Linked DNA regions of Homo sapiens. The protein of the gene in region 3 purifies or fractionates together with the protein of the main gene of each other region. This does not show direct contact. Each region holds a gene or a part of one and is shown on either strand. Other genes may lie near its edges.

The links.
Region 1: the proteins of PARP16 (region 3) and LRP6 purify together in Homo sapiens (affinity purification with mass spectrometry; 3 studies listed by BioGRID and IntAct, with this or other methods). This does not show direct contact.
Region 2: the proteins of PARP16 (region 3) and VWA8 purify together in Homo sapiens (affinity purification with mass spectrometry; 3 studies listed by BioGRID and IntAct, with this or other methods). This does not show direct contact.
Region 4: the proteins of PARP16 (region 3) and LRP5 purify together in Homo sapiens (affinity purification with mass spectrometry; 3 studies listed by BioGRID and IntAct, with this or other methods). This does not show direct contact.

What each region holds. Positions count from the first base shown.
Region 1 is NC_000012.12:12,178,944-12,187,044, reverse strand, and holds part of LRP6 (low-density lipoprotein receptor-related protein 6 isoform b precursor), read left to right. Parts: coding exon 1-122; intron 123-2,933; coding exon 2,934-3,065; intron 3,066-5,605; coding exon 5,606-6,002; intron 6,003-7,063; coding exon 7,064-7,235; intron 7,236-8,101. UniProt on the Homo sapiens protein: Component of the Wnt-Fzd-LRP5-LRP6 complex that triggers beta-catenin signaling through inducing aggregation of receptor-ligand complexes into ribosome-sized signalosomes.
Region 2 is NC_000013.11:41,565,609-41,573,484, forward strand, and holds the end of VWA8 (von Willebrand factor A domain-containing protein 8 isoform a precursor), read right to left. Parts: intron 5,099-7,876; coding exon 4,860-5,098; intron 2,788-4,859; exon of another isoform or gene 2,698-2,787; coding exon 2,589-2,697; 3' UTR 1,227-2,588; downstream 1-1,226. UniProt on the Homo sapiens protein: Exhibits ATPase activity in vitro.
Region 3 is NC_000015.10:65,269,884-65,277,984, forward strand, and holds part of PARP16 (protein mono-ADP-ribosyltransferase PARP16), read right to left. Parts: intron 1,190-8,101; coding exon 1,052-1,189; intron 1-1,051. UniProt on the Homo sapiens protein: Intracellular mono-ADP-ribosyltransferase that plays a role in different processes, such as protein translation and unfolded protein response (UPR), through the mono-ADP-ribosylation of proteins involved in those processes.
Region 4 is NC_000011.10:68,441,325-68,449,425, reverse strand, and holds the end of LRP5 (low-density lipoprotein receptor-related protein 5 isoform 1 precursor), read right to left. Parts: intron 3,854-8,101; coding exon of another isoform or gene 3,724-3,853; intron 2,991-3,723; coding exon 2,893-2,990; intron 2,500-2,892; coding exon of another isoform or gene 2,442-2,499; exon of another isoform or gene 2,269-2,441; intron 618-2,268; coding exon 356-617; 3' UTR 151-355; downstream 1-150. UniProt on the Homo sapiens protein: Acts as a coreceptor with members of the frizzled family of seven-transmembrane spanning receptors to transduce signal by Wnt proteins.

The DNA.
Region 1 (8,101 bases), on a different chromosome or scaffold from region 3:
CTGGAGCACACACTCCATTTTGGCTTGCAACAAGTATACTGGTGAGGGTCTGCGTGAAATCCATTCTGACATCTTCTCTCCCATGGATATACATGCCTTCAGCCAACAGAGGCAGCCAAATGGTAAGTGATCCTTGATTTTTAAATTGCAAGTTGGAACAGCTTTGTAGCACTCTAATGTCTGGCTTTAGTGAGGATCAGGAGGAGGGAGGGCATATCCAAAGATAGTTGGCGGGAATAAAAAAGAGTTAAAATCCTACTTGGGAGGCTGAGGCAAGAGAATCACTTGAACTCGGGAGGCCGAGGTTGCAGTGAGCTGAGATTGCGCCACTGCACTCCAGCCTGGGAGACAGAGAAAGACTGTGTCTCAAAAAAAAAAAAAAAAAAGTTAAAATCCCAGCACTTTGGGAGACTGAAGCAGGCAGATCATATGAGGTCAGGAGTTTGAGACCAGCCTGGCCAACCTGGTGAAACCCTGTCTCTACTAAAAAATACAAAAATTAATGGGGTGTGGTAGTGTGCACCTGTAGTCCCAGCCGCTTGGGAGGCTGAGGCAGGAGTGTCACTTGAACCCGGAAGGTGGAGATTGCAGTGAGCCGAGATTGTGCCACTGCACTCCAGCCTGGGCAACAGAGCGAGACTTTGCTCAAAAAAAAGGGAAAATGTAAAAGTATAATTCAGGTTAGGCAATAGCCTAGACCATTTTGTAGCCTGTCACTACAGACCACCTCAGCCTTTTTGAGTCAGCGCTTTTAGAGGTGGAGAAGAGAGAGATAATTTAAAAATTGAGATAGCTTATATGCTAGGCTTATACACAAATGAGTTTTTTTGTTCATATTATTTCTTTCAGTATGTAGTTGAATGTGTTGATGTGAGTGTGTTTAAAAAACAAACTCTTGGGCCAGGCGCGGTGGCTCATGCCTGTAATCCCACACTTTGGGAGGCCAAGGCAGGTGGATCACTTGAGGTCAGGAGTTTGAGACCAGCCTGGCCAACATGGTGAAACCCCGTCTCTACTAAAATAACAAAAATATTAGCCAGGCGTGGTGGCGTGTGCTTATAATCCCAGCTACTTGGGAGGCTGAGGCTGGAGAATCGCTTGAACCCGGGAGGCAGAGGTTGCAGTGAGCCAAGATCACGCCATTGCACTTTCAGCCTGGGCAACAAGAAAGAAATTATGTCTCAAAAAAAAAAAAAACAAAAAACACACACACACACAAAAACGCCTCTTCTTTTTAAATGAAAACTCTGTTAATCTAGAATATATTTGAATTTAAGTACCTCAGCTTGCTAAATAAAATACCTACTTAAACTTTTCTGTGTACCCCTCCCACCTTGTTTTCCTTAGTTTTGGTTCTGTGTTTGGTCAGCCTTTACAATGACTCGGGCTATGACTGCTGAGAACTTGTAAGAGAGGACTGGAATTAGGTTTAAAAGGAATACGAGAATGTTAAGGGTTTGGCACTTTTGTGTAAATAAATGTCTGGCATCTGTCTGAGTGTATTTCAGATTTTATTACATAGCCAAAAATGAAGAGATTTTGCAACATATGTTGCTTTATATTAGCTCTCCATTTAGGGGGAGATAATCAAATATTGAAAGTGTTATGTTGGAATCTGATGATCATGAGCCCATAAAAATGTTTTTAAGTGTATGTGTTACTCTTCTGTACAAAAGAAAATGTTCAGTCACTTGTATGAATTTTTTTATTCTTCATAGCCCTCAAAAGAGAATTTTCCCTGTTTTTTGTTTGTTTTTTGAGATAGAGTCTTGCTCTGTTGTGCGTTTATGTGATCACGGCTCCCTGCAGCCTCGAACTTCCAGGCTCAAGTGATCTTTCCACCTCAGCCTCCCTAGTAGCTGGGACTACAGGCATATGCCACCACACCTGGCTAATTTTAGTATTTTTTATAGAGGTAGGGTCTCACCATGTTGGTGACCCAGGCTGGTCTCAAACTCCTGGGCTCAAGTGATCCACGCACCTAGGCCTCCCAAAGTGCTGGGATTATAGTCACGAGCCACCGTGCCTGGCCTCTTGTTTTTCTTTTTAAATGGCATTGTTGGTCCTTTATGTTTTACTAATTTGAGAATTTGCAGTTATCTTTCATGTTGGTTACTTTTATCTTTCATGTTCCATTGGTCTCCATCTTATGTTGATTTTTTTCTATGAGTATTGTTTGGACATATCCCTTTCCATAATTTCCAAAGTTTGCTAATTAGTTTTCTCTGATTTTCATTTTCCCCTTTTTTCTGCTTATCCCTTCTATGTTAATCTTCCCAAGGCATGACTTTTCAACATAATTACTTTTCTTGGCTTTCAGTGTCCTTCACTTTAATCTATTCCCATTCTTTGTATTCATTCAGCTTTAGTTCCTATTAGTCAGTAGAAACCTTAACCTCCAGTTATACTGTTCACCTTAATATCTTACCCAGTTTATAGCCCCCAAAGTTTTATTCAGATAGCTTTACCATACTTGAAATGTCCTCTTATCTATCCTTCCTATCCTTGAAGGCTCCCGTGCTGTATACTCCACAAAGCTCTTCTTCAATTCTTTAAACCTCAGCGGTTTTTTTCCCATTTGACTCTGTACTTATTGTCTATAATGTGCAAAATAGCACTTAGTTTTATTGGTTTTGTTTGTTTGTTTGTTTGTTTTTAGTTTTGCTTTTTGTTAATTTTGTTTAACTGACTAAATTGTAACCTCTTTTAGGGCAGGGATCTCCTGCTTTACTTCTTGTGTATTCCTCTTTGGTTACAAAATACTAAGTAAATTCACACTGATTAATTCCTGTCTTTGCAGATGGTTTGATAGTCAAGCACCTGCATGACATTTGGTAATAATTTTGGCTTATCACAGTTGTTCATGTTATGGTTGTTAACCTTTGTGTACTTAGTAATCATTGATATTAATCAATGTGATTTATATTTGACAGCCACAAATCCATGTGGAATTGACAATGGGGGTTGTTCCCATTTGTGTTTGATGTCTCCAGTCAAGCCTTTTTATCAGTGTGCTTGCCCCACTGGGGTCAAACTCCTGGAGAATGGAAAAACCTGCAAAGATGGTAAGAAGATATTATCCAAAATGAAAAATTTTATAACTATTGGAATTCTTCATGATTTGTTTTCTCTATAATCAGCTCTCTAGGTTATACTGCTTTGGGAGACCAGTCACTTAATTTCACAGTCTTCACACATGGTTATAGAATAGGAGTGTTTTGTTCTGTGGCATCACTTGAATGCTATTTTATAAATTATTTTAGTGTTTTAAATAACATATTTTTGAAAAAAGTTACGTGTTGTATCTTTTCTGTCAAATCTCATAGTCATTGATATCACAGTTGATAACTATGGAAATGAGTAGTCGCATAAGGAATATATTTTTAACAGGTAGCATTTGTGAATAAAGAACCTCTGTGAAAGAAAGTATGTTTATTAAACTTTTAGCTACAAAGAATATCATGAGATATATTTTATAACAAATTATTTAAGGATGTTTTAAATTGCTTTTTAACAACAGAGAGATGCTTTCAGAGCTGGGAAAAAAAATCCATATTTAAAACAACTTCTTTTTATACTTAAGAAACACACTTTGCCTGTTCTCCTTACTCTTAATTCCCTATAGAGAGAGGGCACGTTGGAGAAAGTATACTGATTTAGGACATTTTAAGGGACTTCCAGTTTGGAAGAACACCAGTTCTTCTGTTTTTCTTCTTAATGAGAATGTTATTCTTCATTCTCACCCCTATGGATCACCATCTGGTTCTCTAGCAACCAGCAAGACCTGGTAAGAAAATTGTTGTATTTAGCTGTGGCTTCTTTATCTAACTCTGAAAAGCAGAAGCCTGTGTTTTGGAGTGTGTTAGAGTCCCTGGCAAGGGGGCCAGGGAGTCAGAGAGATGGAATTGAGTCTGTGTACAGGATGTTTGTTATGACTTGGCATTGATAAATTATCCTCATAGTAAAAGGTGAAGCTGGCTGACTCTTGGTCAAATGGTTTCCATGGCAGACAGCAATTTGGTTTCAATTTAAAACAAAAGGTTTTTGTAATGTTGCTTTTTTCTTTAAAAATGTAGCCTGACTTTAAAACAGAGGATTTATTTTAGCAATAATGGTCTATCTGCTCCCTCACAGCAGTGCAAGTGTACATATTTAACCAGTTTTGAATTTCATGTGTGCATTTGGCATGTAGTAGCCTTAAGTTAACTGTTCTGTTTTGATCACCTTGCTCAAATTAACAGCTCTATGACTTCTTTGTGAAGTTCTAGGCTGGCTCCTTTTGGTTGTTAGCCGGGGCAGTGAATTGTACAAAGTTATTCCTACTTGGTTCCTGCAGTGGCATTTGGGCTGTATTTTCTTCAAGTTGGAATTCATTTATAATTAGCTCTAGAGTGAAAGGGCTGATATTGAGAGGCTTCACTCCTCTTCTCAGTTTTTTGACTTGTAATTGCAGATTGATTCTTGAAGTTTATATGCCAGTATTTTGTTTTGGACTCATTTATTTAGCTGGGAATCTTTTCTTATTCTTTCAGTTGTCAATTTGCTTACTGTCTTTTATTAGCTTCCTATAGTTAGACGATTTTTTGCTGGTGGTTTACTTGAACAATTTAAAATGAAAAAAAGATTGAGCTCAGTATCTTCATTCTTGGTTATGTGGTTAAGTATTTGGGGCTTGGGCTTTAAACAGTTCATAAATAAACCTAATTTAAAATTCAGTGAAATAAAAATCTGAAAATCTTTATTTTTTAATACTGTTGTTAAGTATTAGTTAATATTTCTTGAGTACTTAAATGTTCAGTACTTTCCTGAGTTTTAGATTTATCTCCTTTAATCCTTACAACAACCTTACAAGGTATAGATGGGGAAACTAGGCTTAGCGAGATTAGATATTTTCCCAAAGTTTGTGTAGCTTCTTGAATCAAATTATATTGGATCCACAACTCTTAACCACTGTGTTATGTTTATCTGGTTCCTTCCCTCCATTGCAGCTGTTTGTTTCTCCATAGCTTGCTTTGTCCTCAATTCTGTGAGGTATTGCCCTGTATTTCTCTTTGTTAAGACAGTTTTACTGAGATGTAACTTACATAGCATATAAAATCCATCCATTTTTTAAATTGTACAATTCGGTGACTTTTTAGTAAATTTACAGAGTTACGCAGTTATCACCACAATCCAATTTTAGAACATTCCTATCAAGCACAAAGATTCTTGTCCTAAATTTCTTTATCTTTTTTTAAAAAATGCTTCTTGAACAAAGGATCTATATCCTACATTTCCTTCTCCTTTAATACTGAGCTACTTAGCTTCTTAGTCATTACATAGTCATTATTCATTGTACTTTTAAATAGCTGGATTAATTCCAATGAAACCATAGAATGTATCACAACTTAATTTGGAGAGTTAGCCATTAAACAGCTTGACCTCAGAGTAGACTCTTCTATTTCACTGTATTACTTTCCATTTCCACTCTAAAGAGAGTGCACATCCTTTTGTGTTAATTTATGTATATTTTATATTTATTTTTCAGTTCTTGATTCTTTATCTAGAGCAGGTAAATTTTACCTCTGGGTTTCAAAGTATTCTTCATTTCACTTTGTTGTTCTAGGTGCCACAGAATTATTGCTTTTAGCTCGAAGGACAGACTTGAGACGCATTTCTTTGGATACACCAGATTTTACAGACATTGTTCTGCAGTTAGAAGACATCCGTCATGCCATTGCCATAGATTACGATCCTGTGGAAGGCTACATCTACTGGACTGATGATGAAGTGAGGGCCATACGCCGTTCATTTATAGATGGATCTGGCAGTCAGTTTGTGGTCACTGCTCAAATTGCCCATCCTGATGGTATTGCTGTGGACTGGGTTGCACGAAATCTTTATTGGACAGACACTGGCACTGATCGAATAGAAGTGACAAGGCTCAATGGGACCATGAGGAAGATCTTGATTTCAGAGGACTTAGAGGAACCCCGGGCTATTGTGTTAGATCCCATGGTTGGGTAAGAAGCTCTACTGATAGTAAATTCTGTGTGGTGTTTCTGTTTTTCACAGGTTCCTGAAAACATTGACTAAGATAACATGACATATATATTGGTTTCCAGTAAACAGCTCTTTAATGGCTGTCTATTTTAGGATATGGTGATTAGAATACAATCTCAAGTTTAAAAATTGCTAGTTTTTTGCCTTGGATGTCTTAGATATTTTTTCTTTCTAAATTAAGTCCATGTTTGCTGACTTTGGGTGTTGTCTGCAGATTTTGCTCGGATTGCATCATTACCATGAAAAATGTGGGAAGAAATTGTTTTCAGAACTCTTTCCCTTCCCCTAGAAGCTTTAATTCCATTTTCAGTACTTTATAGTAAGAATATAGCTTACTTTTTTTTCCCTAAATACATGAATGACTTGATTTCCAAAACTTTGCCAGCCCATGCAGCTTTACTTCTAGTTTGTTGTTGTTGTTTGTTTTGTTTTGCCATGCCACCCTGATCATAGTCCAGGGAAGTACAACTTTTTACATACTCAACAATTTTGTTACTTTGAGATTTATTCTGAGGACAAGCATAGTGACAAATTACACCTCAGTATATACCAATGCCTTAGAGCCATCTAAACATCCAGGAGCCGTAAGAATCACTTAGCACTGCAGGAAGAAATAGTTATTTTGAGAATTCAGTTTGCCATCTGACTAATACTGCTGGGATAAGCCTTTTGTGTCAGAGAGATGACAAGCCATCAAGGAAAAGAGAGAGAAAGTTCATGGAAAAGGGCACACAAAATATTTAAAAAAAAAAAAAAAAAAAAGAAGTAAAACTGTAATCTCATTATTGGGAGGCATTTTCAGGATTGGCTCTAGAACACACTGATCTGAAAATTTCCCACAATCTTATATATTGCTGGGATAAATGTCTTAAACACCTCTTCATATGTTTTTTTTTTTTTCCCCTTCCTTGGCATTAACTGATGATACCAGTGTAATAGGAGGGATGGATCTCACCTTTAGAATATCTGAAAGTTACATTTTATTATCTATTTTTAGCTCATTTTTTGTATACTTCTCTAGGTACATGTATTGGACTGACTGGGGAGAAATTCCGAAAATTGAGCGAGCAGCTCTGGATGGTTCTGACCGTGTAGTATTGGTTAACACTTCTCTTGGTTGGCCAAATGGTTTAGCCTTGGATTATGATGAAGGCAAAATATACTGGGGAGATGCCAAAACAGACAAGATTGAGGTTTGTTTTTTGCTTTTTCATTTTCAAGCCACTTTTATAATGGGTTTTGAGTCGACAGTATAATGATTTGAGTACAGATATTCTTTTTTCTTAACAGTTGTCTGGGGTGCCAAAGGTACCTTTTACAGAAATTTTACTCAACCTTCATGATTCTAGGGATAATATATTCTCTTCCACATAATCCTAGGATGGAGAGATGTATTGGTATGAGAAATGGCTGCTGATCAGTTTCTAGTCTTAAAAGCTTATGTAAGTGATTTTCCTCATTTTGGGTAAAGCCACTTTCTGAATTTCCTAGGGGCAATTTCTGCAAACCAAAATTATGTAAGATCTATACTGGAAGAACTGGCTGTCCTAAGTTAGGAAAACAAAGCCCACATGTATGTGTATATCTATATCTATATCTATATCTATATCTATATCTATATCTATATCTATATCTATATCTTTTATTGCTGTTAACTGGTGTTGGGGCAGATGGTAGAATATATTAAATATTATGATGGTTACATGCAAACAATTTTAAAATTGATTTATGGGCTGTGTGGGAACAAGACTAATTAACCAAAGCTTGGGAAAAAATATTTACCAAGTGGTAGAGTTAAGTTTGTGGCAATCAAATAGATTATGGTGAAAATAATCAGTGATTAATATTTTATCACAGTGTTTTATTAGTGGCCTATATCCCTGATATTGGTGTTAAGTCTAAAATTAACAACTTTGAATTAGACTTTGCTACAGGTCTTATGGATCACATAGATAGAACAGAGTTAGGTCTCAATTTTCCTTTGGGGGAAACTTCACATACAAGGATGGCTTTAAATGGCTCTTCAGAGAGACACTGTACACATCTAATGGACAGAAAA
Region 2 (7,876 bases), on a different chromosome or scaffold from region 3:
CCTTTCAGTGGAACCCCCCGAGGCACACAATGCATTTATTATAATGTCTTGGCCCTAAGAAGGGCCTGGGAACAGCTTGGAGTGGTCTATAATTAAGTACATTTAATAATAAATGCACATACTTCTTAGGTATTGCAAGAAGTGAAAATAAGCTCTTCGTCTTCTCAGTCTCAATTCCCTTTCCCCATCATCCTTCCCCTTCACAAATCAGAAAAGCCAGGAGTACTGTGCTTTTTTAAAAATAGCAATTGCAGAGGATGTCTGGCTGGTCGAGAAAGGTAAATTAAATTACTTGAGAACATTCTTTCCATGTCAAAAAAAATGGCTTCTGCCTCCTCAGGTAGTTACGCATGGGGAGGATTTGCTAAAGGTTGGCTGTTCCTTTAATCTCCCTTGGATTCCACTTCCAAAGGCTTTCAGGGGCAGTGACCCGCTAGCTAAGGGGCATCCCTTGGGGTTAAGCTGCCACTTGGAAGGGCACTTCCTCAGATTGCTGCTGTGCCTAGCAAGGAAGCAGCAGTTAGAAGTGTTCCCCCGACAGTGTCCCATGTCCTCGGTCCCCACACCTCTGAGTGCTCGAATATGGGCAGATAGATAGACTTTCTGAGGAAAGGGAGAGGAAGAGAGCCCTGTGAATGTGGACAGGGTACAAGAAGAGAAGTCACACTGGAAGGAAGAGAAAAAGGCAGCAGGAGTGTGACATGTACATTTGTGAGATGCAGCAAGGGGCGTGGGACTGCGAGGGACGCAAAGGCATTAAGGGGCCTGGAGGCTGGAGGCCCAGCTTTGCCCCTGCCTGGCTGTGAGTGTGGCCTATTTTCTTGAACTTCTCTAAGCCTCAGTTTCTTTACTTGTAAAATGAGGATGTTAATGGTACCATGAATAGTTAGTGAAAGGTCTAGTAACAGGAATCTTGGGAAAGTGACTTAAATTCTCTGAGCCTCACTTTCTTTATCATCTGCAAAATAAGGTAAAAAATACCCCTGTTACATGCATTGTTGTAAGGATGAATGAAATAATGTATGCAATCACTTAGCATATACCTGGTTCACAGTAAATCATCAGTAAATGCTAGCTGCTGTTGTGGCGACCGTTGGAATGCAATTACATTTTTAAAGATACATGTTGGATTGAAATTGTTTGCATCATTGAATGGTTCAATACATGGAGCAGGTGTCTCACTAGAGGAACAAGAAAGCCATGCAAACTCACCAGGTAGTACCACGTTGGAAATCAGATTGCTTTTATTTATTTATTTGATAGTTAATGATAGGGAGAGGGGTGATAGAACAAATGGGTATTATCTTTTCTTCTTTCCTATAATTAATTAAAATGAAATTATGGACCTGTACAATTTCAATAGATATGGATGGATAGGATAATATTATTAATAATAGTTTTTCCAACTTAAGACCAGTTTTTTCAACTCACTGGTGCCCTAACGTTTCTGATTTTGCTATCAATCGTGAAGAGGAGTTTTTAAATTATATGGTTAAAGAGAGAATGACTTTTGCTGAAGCATCTTATTTTAAACAAAGTAATATTGAGCTTATTGATAAAATAAAGGTCAGCCCAAGAGTGTGTGGGAATAAGGTACATTTTGAAAGAAAAGAGAATGAGGCTTTAAAAAAAGTTGTTTTCTTTCTTTTTGTTACAGCTAAAAATTTCCAATCACCATTCACTTCAAATATACCACCTTGATTTTACTTTTTTTACTTTGCTTTAGGTAATTTTTATATGAATATTCTCAATAAATAATTTTCGTGTAAGCATTTATTATTTTGAGCATTACAGTTTGGACCCCAAAATGGAGTACTGTGAATTTTTTGAGAGATGCTAGAAGAACAGAAGAAACAGTAAACTTTTAAGGCAAGACATCTTTCTCCTCCCACTCTAGCAGCAAGGAGAAGAGGACATTTGCTCTTTAAGAGCCTTTTAAAAGTCACGTGGAAAGGCAAGCACTCCAAGGATTTTTTGATTCCTTTTGGCTTTGGCCAAGAAAATGAAATTATTGAGAACAGCCAGACTTTCATAAGATATTGCTGTTGGAGGGACTTTTTGGTGGGTTAAATATTATAAAATCATTGTTTTCTGGTCAATACAGAGCAGGGAGAAAATAAAAATAATTGTTGGATAGGAGCATTTTGGTGGGTTTTGCACAGACTTGCATCTTGTGTCAGAATGTGACATCAAAGGCTCAGTTTGATGGGGTCACTTTTCTAACGTGACCAGATGATGTGTTAAGGCAAAAGCAAAGTATTTTCTCCCCCTCAGGTTTTTGGAAATAGACCAAACACATAGTTCTCAAAACCACCTTCCTTTAACCCCAACCTTTGATAAAGTGCAGGTCAACTAGCTTGCCCTAATCACTTCTAAACTCATCAGTGGAGTATCTTTCCATGTTTAAGTCTCCTTCTGGCTGCTTCTCTGAATTCTCATTACGGAGCAAGTGTAGGAAGACCCAGGAATGCCGGAATCATCCAGTCACTGCATGGGTTCACTTCATCCATATCTTCTTTTTTTCAGAATACTCTTTATTCCTGTCTTATTTCAAATCCTGGTGTCATCAGGGTGATGAAGGGCACTTCTTAGACACTCGACAACATGGTGGAGGTGAAGATCTGTTGTAAAATCTGAGGGATATCCTTGGTATCCATGGCAACGAAAGACCGACCAGCTGGTAAAGTTCTCTGAAGCCTGCCAGGATGGAAAGGGAAAGGAAGTTACCACTGTAAATGGGGCTCCCTTCCACCTCCTGCCCTGGCAAACCACAGCCCCCTAATGGTTTCTTAGGAAAGGAAGTTTTTACTTTCTAATACCTTGCTCTCTGCCTACCATTGAATTAGTCGTCATTAAACAATGAAAGGCTTGGAAGAGCAACAAGGAAAGACACAGCAAAAGCAGGGAACTGAAAGAAAGGTCTTTTCAGTGAGAAAGTCAGTGAATTTGAAAAGAAAAAATTTTCTTCCTTTCTTTACTGCCATTTCTTGGTATTTCATATTCTTTTGGTATAACAGAGCCATAGGGATTCATATGGAATCAGCTCACCTCCCGGGTCTAGCAAATATGTTGACCTTACACTGTATTTCGAAGTGCTTTTCCTTCCTTAGAAAACAGGCCTCTAAAAACGCTGCGCAGCCAAACCCTGAGTGGTTCTTTCTCTCTTTCTTTGCCTCTCTCTCTTTTTTTTGGTCCACATCACACAATGTGAAATGCGATCTGGATTGTCCAATTACTGCTTCAATGACACTGAGGTTATACAGGCTTATGAAATTTTTTCCAACTCATTTTTAAGTGAATTTTAAAAAACTTATAATGGGTTTTGATTTGAATTATCCTTAAAAATAACATGTCATTGAAGTTACGATACTTTTTTAAATACTAATTTATAATTTGGAACAAAAGGCCATTTTGAAGGCAACAAAACTGTAAGACACAGTTCTCTTCAAAAGAACGCCTCCTTTCACTGTGCCAGTGAAGTCTGGCTTTGGAATGACATTTAATAAAATTCAACCATCCTGTGTAGTATCGTATATTTGGCATGCCTGGTAAGCCAGCTAATTCTGCAACATATCTTTTGCCAGTGGATGTTGGACCATTTCCCTAGGAAACCACAAGGGTATTATTGTGCTTTCTTAAGTATTCAAACAGGATCTGTTCACTAGAAAGACAAAATAGCCATTTCATCTCAACTAGTATTTGTTGAGCTTGTTGTCTGCCTAATACTGGGCTGATGCTGAGGAAAACCTGGGTGGAAAAGGCATAGTTTGTGTTTGAGGATGTGGAGGTTCTAAAAGATGCAAAGTGCTAACTTGTAAAAACTAAGAAGAATGAAAAGTCATGTCATAAAATGACTGTAACTACATGATATTAAGTCTGTTCTCAACCTCGCTCTGCAACCTTACAGCAAGGCAAAGGGAATAGAAAGAGAAAAAGCTGCTAGCATTTTGGATATTAAAACATTTCCAGTCACAGAGTATGAAAAGTAAAAGGGGTGGAATAACAAAAACGTAGGCCCTTTGTGCTTTAGGCAGGGATTTTTTTTTTTTTTTTTAAGATTACTTTCACTGGTGTTTTATGTTTCTTACAGGTATTTTAAACACAGAAAAACCATGAGCTCTTTCTGTTTGTAATTCAAAAAGATAAATGTTATTGTGTTCAAGTTATGAAAGTGTTTCCAGATCTCTCCTTTCAGATCATACCCACTGGTATTTATTGTCTGATCATAAGATTCTCTATTGAATATTTAGTATATTCAGTGTAGTATCTAACTATATGTATATTATCTTATGTTGTCGCCAAGTGTTTCACCTGCCTTGTCTCTCCAGCAATAAGAAGGGATACATGTGAGTGTGTCTATATATATATACAGGCATGCATATATGTAGGTGATGTCTCTATGGGGATATAATACATATGTGTGTATATATATGTCTAATATGTACAGACATTCATACACACACACTATCTCCTATGCTAGGAAAATAGTAGATGTTCACGATTTTTAATATGATTTGAACACAAAATGATTAGCCTGAGCTTAGGAGCTTGACATAAAGTGCCAAATGTATAAAATACTACCCGGTTTATTAGTGACAAATCAATTTGTCAATGATTTATTAGTGGCTTAAATATAAACTAAAAAATAATTAATTTAAAATTATTATTGTTCATCTAAACAAAAGCTAGAACATATCCCCTCAACTAGATTATAAACCCCTTGAGGCTAGTAACTTTAGTTTCTGTTTTTCCTCCATCTGCCTCACTGTCCCTCATGGTGCTAAGCCTATAAAACAGCATGTGTTAGCTACTCAGTATCTCTGTACCTGCCCTTTTCTGTATGCTCAGATGACACTTACCTGGTTGCTTGATCACCTAAAGAGCCAATAAAAATGGCAAAAGCATTTACTTGAGGGTCTCTTGTGAGGATTTGAGCAAACTTAGCAGGATGTATTCCATATCGTGACAGATTTGCATCACTCAAGACTATGACAAAGTACTCATCAGCTTCTTCTTTGACAATTTCCTTGATGGCATGTTCTGTCCCTTCTAACGTGTGGTCCCCACTCATGCAGAACTGAGAGTGGGCATGCATTGTCTGGAGGTAAAAGAAGTTGCACAAAAGCCATGGCTGAGAAACTTCTTTTTTAACAAATACGATTATTTTTCTATTGACCATGAGCATGCATACATACCAATTATTACCCATGAGTAGTACATTCTAAGTTAGTTCTATTTAATTTGCATATTTGAGTGACAACAGTATACAGTGATATTTGTTATCTGGCATAGAATTTCATTAGATATAGGATATCATTCCAAAATTATCACAGTGGGCACTTAGTTTTAAGTGGAAGCTTGCACTTCCACTTAAAGTGAGAAAATATAAGAAAATATAAAACTTGGTATCACATTGGAGGATGCAGATGACACAGGAGGAAAATAAGGAATGAGTTGAGTTTCCAATAAACAAAGGTATAATACTAAAAACATTGTACTCACGTCAATAACGATGGAGGAAAGTGACTTAAAATTGTGATGTGCATTTTTCTGTTGCAGGCTTAAGTGTGTGAAATGAATTACACATAAAATTGGGGACAGGGAGCACTCTAAAAGCGGTCATTCTGCTTACCAATGATATGATTGTATATCTAGAAAACCCTGTCCCTCTCCCGTCTCCCTCTCCCGTCTCCCTCTCCCTCCTCCCTCTCCCTCTCCCGTCTCCCTCTCCCTCTCCCGTCTCCCTCTCCCTCTCCCCGGTCTCCCTCTGATGCCACCAAAGTTGTCAAAGCCGAGGCTGGACTGTACTGCCGCCATCTCGGCTCACTGCAACCTCCCTGCCTGATTCTCCTGCCTCAGCCTGCAGAGTGCCTGGGATTGCAGGTGCCCGCCGCCACACCTGACTGGTTTTTGCATTTTTTGGTGGAGACGGGGTTTCGCCGTGTTGGCCGGGCTGGTCTCCAGCTCCTGACTGCGAGTGATCTACCTGCCTCCGCCTCCCGAGGTGCCGGGATTGCAGACGGAGTCTCGCTCACTCAGTGCTCAACATTGCCCAGGCTGGAGTGCAGTGGCGTGATCTCGGCTCGCTGCAACCTCCACCTCCCAGCCGCCTGCCTTGGCCTCCCAAAGTGCCGAGATTGCAGCCTCTACCCGGCCGCCACCCCGTCTGGGAAGTGAGGAGCGTCTCTGCCTGGCCGCCCATCGTCTGGGATGTGAGGAGCCCCTCCGACTGGCCGCCCAGTCTGGGAAGTGAGGGGCGCCTCTTCCCGGCCGCCATCCTGTCTAGGAAGTGAGGAGTGTCTCTGCCCGGCCGCCCATCGTCTGAGATGTGAGGAGCCCCTCTGACCGGCCGCCCAGTCTGGGATGTGAGGAATGCCTCTGCCCGGTGGCGACCCCGTCTGGGAATTGAGGAGTGTCTCTGCCCGACCACCACCCCATCTGGGAGGTGAGGAGTGTCTCTGATCGGCTGCCCCGTCTGAGCAGTGAGGAGCCCCTCCGCCCGGCAGCTGCCCGTCTGCGAAGTGAGGAGCCCCTCCGCCTGGCAGCCGCCCCGTCCGGGAGGGAGGTGGGGGGTCAGCCCCCGCCCCGCCAGCCGCCCCGTCTGGGAGGGAGGTGGGGGGCGCCTCTGCCCGGCTGCCCCGTCTGGGAAGTGAGGAGCCCCTCTGCCAGGCTGCCACCCCGTCTGGGAGGTGTACCCAACAGCTCATTGAGAATGGGCCATGATGACGATGGCGGCTTTGTCGAATAGAAAAGGGGGAAATGTGGGGAAAAGAGATCAGATTGTTACTGTGTTGGTGTAGAAAGAAGTAGACATGGGAGACTCCATTTTGTTCTGTATTAAGAAAAATTCTTCTGCCTTGGGATGCTGTTAATCTATAACCTTACCCCCAACCCCATGATCTCTGAAACATGTGCTGTGTCCACCCAGGGTTAAATGGATTAAGGGCGGTGCAAGATGTGCTTTGTTAAACAGATGCTTGAAGGCAGCATGCTCCTTAAGAGTCATCACCACTCCCTAATCTCAAGTACCCAGGGACACAAACACTGAGGAAGGCCGCAGGGTCCTCTGTCTAGGAAAACCAGAGACCCTTGTTCACATGTTTATCTGCTGACCTTCCCTCCACTATTGTCCTATGACCCTGCCAAATCCCCCTCTCCGAGAAACACCCAAGAATGATCAATAAATACTAAAAAAAAAAAAAAAAAAAAAAAAGAAACAGGCCGGGCGCGGTGGCTCACGTCTGTGGTCCCAGCACTTTGGGAGGCCGAGGCTGGCAGATCACAAGGTCGGGAGTTCGAGACCGGCCTGGCCGGCATGGTGGAACCCTGTCTCTACTAAAAATACAAAAAATTAGCTGGGTATGGTGACATGCGCCTGTGATCTCAGCTGCTCGGAGGGCTGGGACAGGAGAGTCGCTTGGGTGTGGGAGGCGCAGGTTGTAGTGAGCTGAGAATGTACCACTGCACTCCAGCCTGGGCGACAGAGCAAGACACCGTTTCAAAAAAAAAAAAAAAAAAAGAAACAAGCCAGGCACGGTGGCTGACGCCTGTAGACCCAGCACTTTGAGGTGGGCAGATCACCTGAGATTGGGAGCTCAAGACCAGCCTGGCCAACATAATGAAGCCCCATCTCTACTAAAGATACAAAACAAAACAAAAATTGGCCGGGCATGGTGGTGCGTGCCTGTGGTACCAGCTACTTGGGAGGCTGAGGCAGGAGACTGGCTTGAACCCGGGAGGAGGAGGTCGTAGCGGGCCGAGATTGTGCCACTGCACTCTAGCCTGAGCAACGGAGCAAGACTCCATCTCAAAACAAACAAAGAATAAGACCTAGTGTTAGCTAGCACAACAGGGTGGCTATAGTTTAAAAAAAAAA
Region 3 (8,101 bases):
GAATAAATGAATGAATAAATTTGAATTCAACACATAACAACAGTGAAACCCAGAGATTCACTAGGAATTAGCCACCCAGCCTGGAACTGAATACAGATCTCCTGACTCCCACCTCCAGGGCTCTTTATGGTATTTTAACATCTAACACAGAAGAATGTCCCTTAGATACCAGAATCCAAGGTACCAAATTCTACGCCACATAGGAAAGATGTGTGTCTTTGGCAGGAGCTTGTAAAATTGATTACTCTTAAATTGAAATGAATTAAGTGATGAACAGTATGGGTAAAGGAAGAGCACCAGAGCAGGAATCAAGTCCTACACCCTGGTCCTTGTTATCCAGCCTGTCCCTGGGAGACCCCAGCCAGGCAAGGTAAACCAAATTATGGAATGTCTGACTTGTGCCAGAAACTGTGCTGGGGGGGTGACACACATTTTATCAGTGCCCCACTTTGAGGTAACTATCAGCATCTCAATTTATAAATGGAAAAAAGGAGGCCCTTTTCGATAGAAATGGGATTTGAACCCAGAGCATGAGGTTTTCCACTCCTTTGAGTTCTGCCTCTCCATCTCCTGATAACTGAACTAGGTCAGAGTTTCTTAAGGTATGGTCAGGGTCACCCTAATCAGAATTACCAGCAGTGCTTGTTAAATAAAGTGAATCCCAACACATACTGAGCCCTTAGTATGTGCCCTTAGGCATTTTCAAAGTGTGAAAATTCATTCAATTCTCATAGTCAGTGCCTGATGGAAGTATACTATTATCATCCCCATTTTATAGATGAGGAAGCGGAGGGACTGAAATGCACCTGGTACCTACTCAAGGTCACACAGCTGAGATGAGACAGAATTCAGCTTTGTACAGCCAGTGGGAAAGCTCCTGGGCCTGACTCCAGACACAGAACTAGAAAGTCTAAAGGTGAGGACCAGGACTCTGCATTCTCAAGCTGCCCAGGTCACTGGTACACAGGGAAGTCTCAGAGCCACTGGATTCAGTGCTGTCCTAGAGCCCTTAGGCCCCTAAAATCTGTGATGCTACGGACCAAAGTCTCACCTCTGCCTTCCCTGCACTGTGGATTGTCAGGACCTTTGAGGATAAAATCCAGCTCACCAGGTCCCAGGCCCGTTTGTGGTTGTCTCCGGAGGACTGGAGAAGTTCTTTCAGGTTAGGTAACTTGCTGGCATCTGCAAGCTGAAGCGACGGAAGAACTTCCATTAGCAAGGATCCCGGACACAGTGATAATCAGGGGCCCTCTAGTGGGAAGGCAGGCAACGTTCACTTGTTGCACGTCTCAAGGGATCTCCTGAGAGGAAATTCACAGGTCTACAATCCCCTTTCCAAATAATACTAAACTTTACAAGCTCTAAAATCTGAAAGGTTTTTTTTTTGGTGGGTTTTTGTTTTGTTTTTGAGACAGGGTCTCACTCTGTCGCCCAGGCTGGAGAGCAGTGGCATGATCTTGGCTCACTGCAGCCTCTGCCTCCTAGGTTCAAGCAATTCTCCCACCTCAGCCTCCCGAGTAGCTGGGACTACAAGCGCACGCCACCACGCCTGGCTACTTTTCATATTTTTTGGTAGAGATGGGGTTTCACCATGTTGGCCAGCCTGGTCTCGAGCTCCTGACCTCAAGTGATCCCCCTGCCTCGGCCTTCCAAAGTGCTGGGATTACAGGCGTGAACCACCATGCCCAGCCTTGGTGGTTTGTTTTTTTTTAAACTCTTTGGGTACCAAACCTGACCTGAGCTGATGTGAGGTTTAATCTTTACCTATCCCCTTCCTGTTAGTATCAGTGCATTCTGCTGCAGGAATATTAACATGCCATGAGTATGGCATGCCACCCACTGGAGGTGTGACTGAATACATGATACATGCACATGTGGGTAAAGCGCTACATTACAAAGCCTTTTCCTTTCTGTGTGAGAATTAGTTAACTTCTGTTAAGTTGTTCCCCTGGAGACTGGATAAAGGTAGTATGACAACTACATACGTAATCAGGCAACACTGCTTAAGGTAAAAATGACCCAGCATGGTACACGGCATCTGGCCTGGGAGGAACTGTAAATGGGGAATGCATAACTTTGGGTTTCCCAGAGTGTGACAATGTTTTGTTGGAACACTGGAAGCTTTGTTGATGACATTCTCATGAGTGAGACCAGCCTCTGAGGAAAATGGAGCTTCACTTAGGCCAGAGCAGTTCCTGCACCCACCCCATGTGGATCTCATCTCTTTACTCCCAAGTTTTCACTTTTGGGGGCAAAGACTAGCTCTTGGACCTCTATGTGGACCACTGCAAGGACTTCCACAGAAACACAGTGCCTAATGCTGTGCTGCTGAAAGCTGTCATCAGTCCTAGAGCCTTTGGATTTAGGCTGATGTCCCGTGGGACCTGTGATAGGACTCAGCCTAGTTGTCATTGCAGCACATTATTTACCATTCTAAAATCAGGAAGAATCGGAATCCTGAAACATATTCAGTGCCAGGATTTCTGATAAGGGACTGGGGACTTGGACTAACAGATAGCAACAAAGTATCTGTAGCTTTTGCTCAGAAGTTATGACTGACTAGAGGTCAAACCTCTCCAGCATGGCATTTAAACACCTCTAGCCTAATCTCAACCCCTTACCATCCCCTCCCCATCACAGACTGGTTCTATTCAGGAGCATGTCTTGTTCCAAGAATACCCCTTCCCCCACCTCTACTACCCAGGCACTTCTGATCCAAGAGACCACTCTCTCCTCTAAGCCCCTAAAGCCCATTGCCCCAGTTCTCCCTTCCAAGTATGGCCAGACACCTGGAGGTCAAGAACTGTCTTGTGTTTTTCCAATTCTCCTCTTTCCTGGATGCAGAGAAACAGCATGAACTGTGGAATCAGATCTCAGTTGGAATCTCTGTTGAGCTTCTATCTCCTCTCCAACAAGGGCACCTCTCTACCTCGCCAAGGGGTTGTCAGGAAGTTTGAAGAAGGTCACAGAATCTCAGGGCTTGGTCTATATATGTCCATTTCTTTTCTTTCCATTTACATTTCTCCCCAGACAACACTGTCCTCCCAAACCCTGGCAACCTTTCCTTCTGCTTTGCAAGGGATGTAGTTGGCACTTCAAGAATACCTGTGTGGTGGCCCGGTGTGGTGGTTCACACCTGTAATCCCAGCACTTTGGGAGGCTGAGGGGGGCGGGTCACGAGGTCAAGAGATTGAGACCATCCTGACCAACATGGTGAAACCCCATCTCTACTGAAAATACAAAAATTAGTTGGGTGTGGTGGCATGTGCCTGTAGTCCCAGCTACTCGGGAGGCCAAGGTAAAAGAATCACTTGAACCCAGGAGGCGGAGGTTGCAGTGAGCCAAGATGGCGCCACTGCACTCTAGCCTGGTGACAGAGAGAGACTCTGTCTCAAAAAAAAAAAAAAAAAAGAATACCTGTGGTTCTTTTCCATTTTTCTAGAAAATTGACTATTACTGACTTTGGGAGTTTTTCTTAGCTCTGTAGTTGAAAATTAGAAACAGAGCCAGGTGTGGGGGCTCATGCCTATAATCCTAGCTACTCAGGAGGCTGGGGTGGATTTCTTAAGGCCAGGAGTTAGAGACCAGCTAGGGAAACACAGTGAGATGGCTCTAAAAATAAATAAATGAAATTAAAAACATCTTAGGGCCACTTTATTTCTATTTCCAGAGATTCAATCAATAGCCTCATATATTGTAATAAAACTATCTCAGGTTGGGTGCAGTGGCTCATGCCTGTAATCCCAGCACTTTGGGAGGCTGGGGTGGGCGGATCACCTGAGGTCGGGAGTTTGAACCAGCCTGACCAGCATGAGAAACCCCATCTCTACTAAAGATACAAAATTAGCCGGGCGTAGTGGCACATGCCTGTAATTCCAGCTACTCGGGAGGCTGAGGCAGGAAAGTCGCTTGAACCCAGGAGGTGGAGGTTGCAGTGAGCCAAGATCATGCCATTGCACTCCAGCCTGGGCAACAATAGCAAAACTCTGTTTCAAAAAAAAAAAAAACAAAAAACACCAACTATCTCTACAGGCCTCATGAGGTATCAGTGAAAATCTAATATTTATTAAAAGAAAAAATTTTTTTGGAGACAGGGTCACGCTCTGTTGCCCAGGCTGGAGTGCAGTGGCACAAACACAGCTCACTGCAGGATCCATCCCACCCCCACCCGAAGTGATTCTCCTGCATAGCTGGGACTATAGGCACATGCCGCCATGCCCAGCTAATTTTTTTTATTTTTAGTAGAGATGAGGTCTTGCTATGCTGCCCAGGCTGGTCTCAAACTCATGAACTCAAGTGATCCTCCTGCCTCAGCCTCCCAAAGTGCTGTGATTACAGGCATGAGCCACCAAGCCCAGCATACTTTTTTTTTTTTTTTTGAAAGTGGATGTGTGAGCCCGGGCATGGTGACTTATGCCTGTAATCCCAGCACTTTGGGAAGCTGAGGTGGGCGGAGCTCTTCAGTTCAGGTGCTCAACACCAGCAGGGGCAACATGGCGAAACCGCATCTCCACAAAACAAAACAAACAAACAACAAAAAAAAATTATCCAGGCGTGGTGGTGTACACCTGTAGTCCCGGCTACTTGGGCTGAGGTGGGAGGATCGCTAGAGCCTGGGAGGTAGAAGATGCAGTGAGCCATGATTGTTCTACTGCACTCCAGCCTGGGTGACAGAGTGAAACCCTGTCTCGAATAAAAAAAAAAAAAAGGATGTGTGGAGTGCAAATGCTCCATGAGTATTGGTGCTATTTCTATGCCTTGCTTACTGTTCCACGCCACCTGCTTCACCCCCAGGCTGCATGGCCTTGCATTATTCAGGGGGCATTTACTAAGCATCTACTTTGTGCCAGGCCCTGTGCTTATAGGAGGAGGCATTAGATTTAAAATGGGCCCCTTAATCAAGTGGGGAGGCAGAAAGGTAAATAATAATGACTTAAAAGTATTCATTGTCGCCAGGCGTGGTGGCTCACGCTTGTAATCCCAGCACTTTGGGAGGCCGAGGCAGGCGGATCACCTGAGCTCAGGAGTTCAAGATCAGCCTGGCCAACATGGCAAAACACCATCTCTACTAAAAATATAAAAGTTAGATGGGCGTGGTGGCAGGCACCTGAATCCCAGCTACTCTGGAGACTGAGGCAGGAGAATCCCTTGAACTCCAGAGGCAGAGGTTGCAGTGAGCCAGTGAGCCATCACTGCACTCCAGCCTGGGTGACACAGCGAGACCCTGTCTCAAAAAAAAAAAAGCAGCATTCACTGTCGTAACAAAGTTGGATACAAACTACTAAGAGGACAAGGTGGGACTCCTGTTGCGTAGGGGCTAAAGGAAAAGGGGGTGGGGTTGGGACCAGCTTCACAGAGGAGGTACTGTATGATCTGGGTTTGCTATATGAAACCACAGAAGTATAAAAGCGCAGCATGTAGCTGGGGAAGTGGGTGGTGGCATGGTTAATTGTGCAGTTCTCCCAGGCATCTGGGGCTCTATTCCTCTACTAGCTGTGTGACCTTTAGTGAGATGTTTGACTTCCTGTGTCTCAGCTTTCTCAAATACATAATTGGGATAATATCAGTAGCTACTTCATAGGGTCCCGGTGGAGATTAATCAAGTTAAACAAGTGCTCAAACCAACAGGAAAGTATTAAGTACTCTAATGTTAGTGTGACTGCCATGACTGTCATCATTAACAACAGGTAATTCTGTGTGGCTGGAACCTAGAGTGTGGGGAAGTGGCTGCCAAGAGGAAGAGTGGGAAGGTGACCTCAAGTGAGGTCATCTCAAATGATCCTGTGAAGGACCCTGTACTCCACTTGGGAACCCCAAGCTTTGTTCTGTAGGTTATACAGAGTCACTGAAGACATATCCCAAATGGTGTACCCTCAGGTAGCTTACCCATACAGGACTGCTGCCTGCACAGTCCAAAGGGCACTCATCCCCCTTCCTTCTTTTCTATTCCTTGTTATCTCAGAGCCAGAGCTGAGTCATCTTCTCTCCAAAGATTACTACTATTCCCATCACTCGTGTCCTCAAATCCCACCTGTGAGTCACAGCCCTTGTCAACAGTCCATATCTAGGCCCAGAGAGCCCCACAAAAGGACAGTCAGCTAGCCAGGTGCCTTTCAGGGACTCAGTCTGGACAAAGGGGAGAGATGCCTCCTAGCTCCAAGCTGGACCCAGGCCTCTTCCCGGCCCTCCTACTGCATCTGCCCAGACAGGGTCCCTGCTGCATCCTGCCCTCCTTGCTCCCCACCATCTGTCCACACTCTTTAATTCCTCAACTGACCTTCTTTATGTCCCATTTCACTTTGCGTGTTACTCTGAAAAATAAATCTGCTTCAACAATTTAATAGGATTCTTCCTCTTGTGACTAAAACCTGTCTGCATTTTAGCAGGGCCTTTTGGGAACCAGGCACACAAGTAGGGTTGCCATTTAAAATACGCTCTGCCCGGTTAAATTTGAATTTCAGATAAACAACAACAACAACAAAAGACCCATTTTGTTTTTTTTAAAGACGGGATGGGGTCTCACTCTGTCACCCAGGCTGGAGTGCAGTGGCAAGATCACAGCTCACAGCAGCCTTGACCTTCCAGGCTCAAGCAATCCTCCCACCTCAGCCTCCAGAGTAGCTGGGACTAAAGGTATGTGACATCATGCCCAGCTAATTTTTTGTACAGACAGGGTTCCACCATGTTGTCCAGGCTGGTCTCAAAACTCCCGGGCTCATGCAATCCACCAGCCTCAGCCTCACAAAGTGCTGGGATTACAGGCATGAGCCCCTGTGTTCAGCCAACAAATTTTTTTTAGTATAAATAACCCATGCAATATTTGGGACATATTCATACTTAAAATCCCAGCACTTTGGGAGGTTGAGGTGGGTGGATCACCTAAGGTTAGGACTTTGAGACCAGCCTGGTCAACATGGTGAAACCCTGTCTTTACTAAAAATACAAAAAATTAGCCAGGCATGGTGGCGGACACCTTTAGTCCCAGCTACTTGGGAGGCTGAGGCAGGAGAATCGCTTGAACCGGGGATGTGGATGTCGCAGTGAACCGAGATCACGCCACTGCACTCCAACCTGGGCAACAAGAGTCAAACTTCATCTAAAAAAAAAAAAAAAATTATTGGTTGCTCATCTTAAATTCAAATTTAACTAGGTGGCCTATATTTTTATTTGCTAAATCTAATAATCTTACCCTTAATAAGGCACTTAGGAATCCAGTCTGGCCTCTTTGCTTAACAGTACCTCCTGCCACTAACTCCCTCCCCACCCCCAATGCTATTCCTCATGTGACCTATGGTTTTCTTCCTCTGTGCTTCTGTGGCTGCCTACCATGACATCCCACTGAGTCTTCAAGGTCAGCAGTCACCTCCCACGTGAAGCCTTCCCTGACCACCTACAACCTCTGTACTCAATAATTGTATTCTATTGTGTTCAGCAATACAGCAGAGCCCCATGTTGGTACCTGACCCTCTGGGGCCAACTCATATCTGGTTGGGACAAACACTCCCTGAGGCCAACCACATCTTACTTACCCTGGATCCCCATGCCAGCCTGGAACCTGGCATGAAGTTAAGAACAAAAGAGTAATAGCTACTATTAATTTGAACCCTTACAGGTGCCAGCCACCAGAATAAATGCTTTGCATGAATTTATTGTTATCTCATGTTATTCTCATAACCTGTTTTGAAGATGAGGAAACTGAGGCTTGGAGATGCTCAGCACCTTGCCTAGGGGCACACAGCTATTCAGTGGCAGGGTGGGGATATGAAGCCAGGTGGCCCGACTCCAGAGTCTATTCTCCTGCCATACACTCCTACCAAATGAATGGAGAAATTTAGTGGTGGACTGAATATTTTAGCCCAAAGGAACAATTCTGGCAGAATTTTTAAGAGACTGCTTTGGGAAGCTAATCAGGTATGATATTGGAATTCCCCCCAATCCCAAAATAATACAACTGAGACAGCTACTGGCTGTGCCTAAGCCAAAGGTAGGGAGAAAGATGTATGTAATATGCAGTATAGGGGTATGTGGAAGAAATCACCATCTAGGCAAGCATTCTGAATCACACATCAGTACATGGCAGTGGAAGGCATTTGCCAACTGG
Region 4 (8,101 bases), on a different chromosome or scaffold from region 3:
CCACCTCTGCCCAAGGCCCCAGCCCTTCCCTGCAGGAGCCGGACAGAGGGACGCCCGGGTGCAGGAGGACTCTCATGGTGGTCCGGGGGTCGGCATTCCCTCCACGGGGACACACAACTCAAATGCACACAGGGCACGAAAGAATGGCAGTTCTGTTTTACAAAATTAAGTTTATAAATATTTCTCCACTGTACAAAGTTCTCCCAGCCCTGCCCACCCCATCACAGTTCACATTTCTCATGTTTTTAAAATCCCAATTATATTTATTTTTTAAATCATAAAATATATTTTTTTCTTTGTTCATATTTAAAACTATTTACAGGGGCACAGAGAAGCCAGAGTGGCCCGGCCGAGGTCAGGATGAGTCCGTGCAGGGGGACGGAGGGGGCGGGAAGAGATGGAAGTAGCTCCTCTCGGTGGCGGGCGAGGGCGGGCAGCTGTCCTCCGCCGACAGGTACTGGCTGTGGGGCGTGGGTGGGGGTGGATAGGGGTCTGAGTCCGAGTTCAAATCCAGGTAGTACTTGCTGGCCTTCCAGCGGCTGGCGCTGTAGTCGCTGTCACACACGTCGGTGCTGCAGGGCGTCGTCGGGGGCGCCATTCCTCGAATGATGTAGGGCCTGAAAGGGACACACACAGAGGAGTGGGATTCGGTAGGCACATCCGCCCTGGTGGGCACAGCAGCCCCGGGGCTGTGAACGGGAAAGGCCTGTCCACTGGCCAGCTCCAGAAGATGCAGGCCGGACTCTGGACCCACCCCGCTGTGTCGCCAGGGCTCATCACTTACCCTCTCTGAGCCTCAATGGTCCCACCTCTACCATGGGCATGCCCGCACCTGCCCTGCAGCCTGCCAAGCCTGGGCCCTGGCAAGGCTGCCTCTAAGGAGAACGAGGCCTCTAGAGCCTGCTAGCTGACCTTGGCCAGGAACTTACTTGACCTCTTCGAGCTTTAGTTTCTCATTGATAAAAGTGGGGATGAAATAGTACCCATTTCGAAAGTGAAGGATACATGAGATTCTGCCTGGAAGGTGCTAGAAACAGTGTCCGACAAAACAGGAGACTGGACAACTGTTCACCTAACACTGTTACTGTAAATGTTGGCAACCGATAGGGTTTGGCTGTGTCCCCACCCAAATCTCATCTTGAATTGTACTCCCATAATTCCCACGTGCTGTGGGAGGGACCCAGTGGGAGATGATTGAATCATGGGGGTGGTTCCCCCCATACTGTTCTCGTGGTAGTGAATAAATCTCACTAGACTTGATGGTTTTACAAGGGGAAACCCCTTTCGCTTGGTTCTCATGCTGTCTGTTCCCTGAAGCCATGTAAGATGTGACTTGCTCCTCCTTGTCTTCTACCATGATTGTGAGGCCACCCCAGGCAGGTGGAACTGTGAGTCCGTTAAACCTCTTTCCTTTACAATTACCCAGTCTTGGGTATGTCTTTATTAGCAGCGTGAGAACAGGCTAATACAGCAACCAATGGGCCCGGAACACTTCCATCCTGAGTTCAAGCAACCTGACTCGCAAGATGGCTCCTGACCTCCCATCCTCCCAGAGGCTACCTGCACCCAACTGTGGCCCAGAAACGCCGCATCCCACTGTGTGAGTTCAGACTCGGAACTGTGGTGTGTTTAGGAGCCCCCGTCCTGTCACAGAGGGGCCTGCAATGGGTGGGAAGGTGCAGCCAACACCGGGTGTTGAGAAAAGTGCAGCAGGACAGGATACTCCTCTTGGGGCCCAGCTGCTGTGAGGTCAGACGGCGGGCGGGGGGAAGATGTGTCCGCGGTGGGCCCAGAGCAGGACGGGCATGAGCAAAGGCAGGAGGTGGGACGAGGAACTAGCGAGACTGGGCTGCCCAGTGTGGATGTGACCATTCTGGAGACAGTGGTCTGTAAGGCTGTGGGACAGACTGTGACAGTTTGATATAATACTGAGGCATCAGGGAGGTGGCCCGACCCGGAGTGGGGTGGAAATGGAGGCTGCAGTTCCGGCTCCCCAGCCAGGCCTGGGAGTTCGTGGAAATGGCCACTAGGTGGCAGGCGGCACCACACTCGGGAGGCCCTGCTGCTCCAGGGACCCAAGCAATGAGGAATGCGTGGTCCAGAGGTGTCCTGGCCCAGGCCCAGCCTATCCCACCCCTTCACCTGCGGGGGTGGGGCCTGGTGCGGCTGGCGGGTGGGCCACGTTGCCTGACACCACTGGGTTAAAGGTCAGGAGGCTCACCCTGCCCATCCCAGGCTCTGATCCAGCCCCTGCGGAGACCAGCACACCTGGGTCCCACCTCTCCACACTCTCAGTTGCCCCTCCCCAACCAGGGAGGTGGGGCCTGTGACCCCAACATGGGCAGCTCGGGGGGCTGGTGTCCAGCTGAGCAGCCCCGTTGGCTTCCCGGGCTCAAACAGGCCACTGTGGCAAGTGAGCAGCCCGGACCATCCTGGTGACGTCACACGATTAGGGGTCTACGGTGGGTGCTGCAGCAGCCTTCACAGACTTGTCCCATCCTAAGAGGACAGAGCCACCAAGAGGGGGCATCTCAATGGCTAGGTTTCCACAGCCGGACTCAAACACACAGTCAGACTCTGGAGCCCAAGCCCCCGGCCCCTCGACGCCACAGCCATTTCCCAGCTTAAAAGTAACCCCCATAGGAGCAACTTGAAGAGCAGCTCAGAACGTGGAGTTCTGCTGATTTCTGAACCCAACATGCAGTGCCCGCTGAGCTTGTCTGGGGAGGCAGCCTAGTGTGGTTGGCAGAGCAGAGGGAGGCAGGGCTGGGCCCGGCACCTGCCCACTAGCACCCAGAATACCTCCCCTCATCAGTGGCATGGGGATTAGGCCCCTCCACCACGGGCTGGCGGGAACCCAATGGCCATGGAGGGCTGCAGGGGATGTCCTACCTGTACGGTCTCGCAGTGGCCGGAATGTTTGAAGAGTAGAACATGTCCATGTTGTACAGGGAGGGGTCCGTGGCCGGGGAGGGCGGCGGGTTCAGGATCTGAGGAGAGCCAAGCCAGGGTGACTTAGAGCCTCGCCAGCCTGGGCATTCCTTCCTTCCTCCCACACCCCTCGGGCTTTCCTTGCAGAGAGGGCTTCTGGCCCCCCTGCTTCCCAGGACCCCTTCCTCTGGCCAGTTGGCAAAACCTGGGGACAGGAGGGGAGGCAGCAGCCACCTGCCCCGAAGGTCATCTCAGTGAAAGGCAAAGGGAACCCAGGCACTTTTGGCCCAGGTGCCCGCGCCCTTCCAAGTACCTGCCTTGTGACCAGATGCTGGGCTGTGAAGGCGGGGACAGGACTTCGGCCAGTTCCCTTTGTGGCTGGCCCCCAGCAGTAGGAGATGTCCCCACAGGCCCTGAGTGTCCTCCACACCAGTTAGCACCTCACCAGGCTCCTCAGGGACCTTCCCAGGAACTCTCCTTCTGACCTTTCCTCCTGCCCCTCCTCCCTCCATCACACACAGTCTAACTCCTGCAATGACGCCCTTGTTCCGAACACTCAGGGGCTCTGCGTCCCTGCTGAAGCCCTGACACAGAAGTCACCACGCTGAGGGAGGGGCCACAGTCCCACTCCAGACAAAGGCACCCCCTTCACAAGGGCCTGTGCTGGCACCAGCCCCAAAGCGGGGATAGTAAATAGACAAATTCACCACGTGAACGTGCCCCCCAGGTCCAGGCAGCACACAACCAGCCCTACAAAGGGAGGAAGGGACCAGGGGCCCTGGGCCCACACACCCACACAGGTCTGCACCTTCCACAAGTGCCACTGACGGCACCCCAACCCAACATGCAGCTTCCCAAAGGGTGTAGGGCTTATGTGGGTCTCCAAGGCCATCCTGGAAAGCATACAGCCAGATCCGAGCCCCTGCGGAATAATGGGAACAGAACTGTCAGTTATGCCCGAGGGACTCAGTTCTCTCAGGCCCCCTAGGGTGGTACAAGAACACTGCCTTTCACGCCAGACAGACCCGGGTGAAGTCCTGTTTTACCACCTTCTGGCTGCAGCAGGATCCCTGGGGAGGGAATTTACCTCAGCCTCAGTTTCTTCAACTTTAAAATGGGCTTGACCTAGCACTTTGGGAGGCCGAGGCGGGCGGATCACTTGAGGTCAGGAGTTCGAGACCAGCCTGGCCAACATGGTGAAACCTCATCTCTACTAAAAATATGAAAATTAGCCGGGTGTGGTGGCGGGCACCTGTAATCCCAGCTACTTGGGAGGCTGAGGTGGGAGAATCCCTTGAACCCTGGAGGCAGAGGCTGCAGTGGGTTGAGATCGCACCACTGCACTCCAGCCTGGGCAACAGAGTGAGACTCTGTCTCAAAAAATAAATTTAAAATTAAATAAAATAATAAAATAAAGTAATAAAATGGGCTCGAGAAGGCCTGCTTCCTGGGGCTATCCTGATGGCTGGTGAGTAGCCTCTGGGGAGTGGCCAGGCCCTTCCCCTGCCCTTTAGGAAGCCGCACTGGGCCCTGCTCTTTCTGGAGAGGGTCCTCTTTGGCCCAGAGAGCCAGTCTGGGTATTCCTCAGGATTTGACCCCAACGTTGAGAGGGCATGAGACTGGGGGCACTGGGGAAGATGCTTCAAAGCAGAGAGCAGGCAGGGAGGCAGCAGAGAGGGCTTCCTACAGCTGCCCAAGCCCCAGCCTATGGGGTCTGTTTCCACCTCTTCCCATGAACTTGACCAGGCCTGGTTTCTCTCCTACATCCCAAGGCAGTTTGAGATTCTGCCCAAATCTGCACTGGGCAGACTTCTGGCAAGATCCACCAGTGCAGCGCCTCGGCAATGTCTCAGATGTCCCGTGAACCACGGCCAGGCCCTATTCAAAGAGGACTGGATCTCGGCCCAGGGTGGGGGGTGGGGGGTGGGGGCTGGGGAGGCCACTCGGCTCATCTGCTATTCCTGCGTTGTTGTTGTTTTGACTGAGTCTCGCTCTTGTTGCCCAGGCTGGAGTACAATGGCATGATCTCGGCTCACTACAACCTCTGCCTCCCAGGTTCAAGTGATTCTCCAGCCTCAGACTCCCGAGAAGCTGGGATTACAGGCATGCGCCACCACACCCAGCTAATTTTTTTGTATTTTTAGTAGAGATGGGGTTTCACTATGTTGGCCAGGCTGGTCTCGAACTCCTGACCTCAGGTGATCCACCCGCCTTGGTCTCCCAAAGTGCTGGGATGACAGGTGTGAGCCACCATGCCTGGCCTATTCCTGCATTCTTAGAGTTCTCTGTACATCTCACTGTTCAATTTCTGCTATTCCAGTCCCTGGTAATAAGCCTGTAGACGGAACTTTCTCTGTTCAAATTCTCATAGAGTTTCTGCCTCCTGATAGACCCCGACTAATTCACGCCACCCATAAGCCATCAGCCAAGAAACAAGCTGGATGCCCACCTTGCTCATCAAATCTAATTACATCCCAGAAGAATTAAAGATGTGAACGTAAAACGAAAGGAGGAGGACGTTAAGAAAGAGAGTGTGGGCTGGGCATGGTGGCTCACGTCTGTAATCCCAGCACTTTGGGAGGCCGAGGTGGGTGGATCACCTGAGGTCGCGAGTTCGAGACCAGCCTGACCAACATGGAGAAACCCCCGTCTCTACTAAAAGTACAAAATTAGCCAGGCATGGTGGTGCATGCCTATAATCCCAGCTACTCGGGAAGGTAAGGCAGGAGAATCACTCCAACCCGGGAGGCGGAGGTTACAGTGAGCTGAGATTGCGCCACTGCACTCCAGCCTGGGCAACAGGAGCAAAACTCTGTCTCAAAAAAAAAAGAGAGAGAGTGTGAAAATAAGTTGTTTTTTATGATCAGAGCAGGGAAGGCCTTTCTGAACATAACCAAAAAAAAAAAAAATATATATATATATATATATATATATATATATATATATATATGCCATAAAAGAGGAGATTGATAATTTCTTTTCTTTTCTTTTTTTTTTTTTTTTTTGAGACAGAGTCTCGCTCTGTCGCCCAGGCTGGAGTGCAATGGCGCGATCTCGGCTCACTGCAACCTCCGCCTCCCATGTTCAAGCAATTCTCATGCTTCAGACTCCCAAGTAGCTGGGATCACCATACCCGGCTAATTTTTAAATTTTTACTAGAGACGGGGTTTCTCCATGTTGGCCAGGCTGGTCTCAAACTCCCGGCCTCAAGTGATCCGCTCATCTCAGCCTCCTAAAGTGCTGAGATTACAGCTGCAAGCCATCACGCTGGGCCCAAAGGTTCTTAAACACACAAAATGATGCTTACATCATTCATGATAAAATAAATATAAATGAAGATCTTAACATGATACCATTTTTACTCTATATTAGACAGGTGGAGAGAAAGGGTGCCAGGGACCGTTTTGCCAGTGTGGCCCTCTGCTGAGAAAAGATGGACTGTCCCTTTCAGAGGGCCACTTGGCAGGAGTGGTTGAAACAGCCAAGGTTCAACCGCAGCAGGAGAGAGGACCATGATGCCCTCCAGTGGGGGCCCAGCCACGCCTGACAAGGAGTGCTGTTCAGCCACCAAGAATGTGACGGCTGTGTCCTCAAAACAGAACAAACTTCAGGGTGCGGGGGAAGCAGAGTAGAAGGTGGTTGTGAGTTGGATGGCCTGGCCCCACTGCCTACCAACCGAACGACCCAGGCCAGTGGTTCATGCTCAGTTCTTCAGCCTCCTTGTTGCAAAATGAGGAAAACAATAGCACCTCCTCCCGGAGATGGGTTACGGTAGAGCTCTAGGCAGGGTGCACACGGCAGCTGGGAGCCTCCGAAATGCTCAGAACAGCAGCTTTTATACATCGTTAGCAGCAAAAGGCAAGGCTCAATGTTGACTCTTCAGATGCTATCTTTCGGGCTTACGAAAACACATATGTCAGCCCAGGCGCAGTGGCTCATGCCTGTAATCCTACCACTTTGGGAGGCTGAGGCAGGAGGATCACTTTAGCTCAGGAGTTCAAGACTAGCCCAGGAAATTTAGTGAGGCCTCACCTCCACAAAAAATTTAAAAATTAGCCTGGCATGATGGTGCACACCTGCCATCTGAGCTACTTGAGGGGACTGAGGCAGGAGAATCGCTTGAGCCCAGGAGTTTGAGGCTGCAGTGAGCTGTGATTGTGCCACTGCACTCCCACTGGGTGACAGAGGAAGTTTGTCTCAAGAACAAACAAAAAACACTTATGTCAATCTGAATAAGGTGAAAGAATCGTTATCAGTGTCTTGCTTATGATAGGAATGGAAGTCATGCAAGATGGCAGGCAGCACTGGGGGAAACCAGGCAGAGGATAAATGGGTCTGTGCTCTTTCTCACAACTGCACATAAATCTACAATTATCTTCTGGCTTGGAAAACAAAGTCCACGCTCTTGTATGCTTGCATATGTACAGATGACCCCTGGGGGGACATAGAAGAAACACACTGCAGGAGGCCATGCCTCCCAGGGAGTCCTGCTTGGCGTCATGGGGGCGGAGTCTCTTTGGACTGCAGACTCTTCTGTATCTTTTGAATTTTGTACCATGAACATATATTTAAAGGATGCAAAATAACTTTGCTAATTTAAAAACAGCTGGCTTCATGCAGAGTTTCTTTTAGGGGCAGGAAAATGTTCTAAAATTAACTGTGGTGAGGGTTGCACACATCTGTGAATACACTAAAACCCACTGAACTGTACCCTTTTTTAAGTGGGTGAGTCATATGGTTAAACAATAAAGTGATTTAAAAAATTAGCTGGCTGCTCAGTGCCATCTCTTATTGCCTGATTAAGATCCTCCCAGCTCCCAAGGGAGAACAGGAAAAGAGAATTCGTGAGCTGCCTGCTGTGTGCTCGGGGGCCCTGCTTGGGTTCCTAGCACTCCTGGCTGGTTAAGCTGGGTTGCAGCAGCAGGAGCAGGGAAGAAGGGCAGTGGGTGTTTAAACTCTCGGCTTCTGGTTACCAGTTCCCTTTGTCCCTAAACAAAGCCAGGCCCTGGGGCCTCCAGAACACTCAGTTACTGTCCAGGAAACCAAGAAGAACCCTCTTCTGCTACTTCCTTCCCAGGGCCCACCACAGTCAGGTGCCATAAGAAGACAATACCCCAGGCCAGGCACGGTGGCTCACGCCTGTAATCCCAGCACCTGGGGAGGCCGAGGC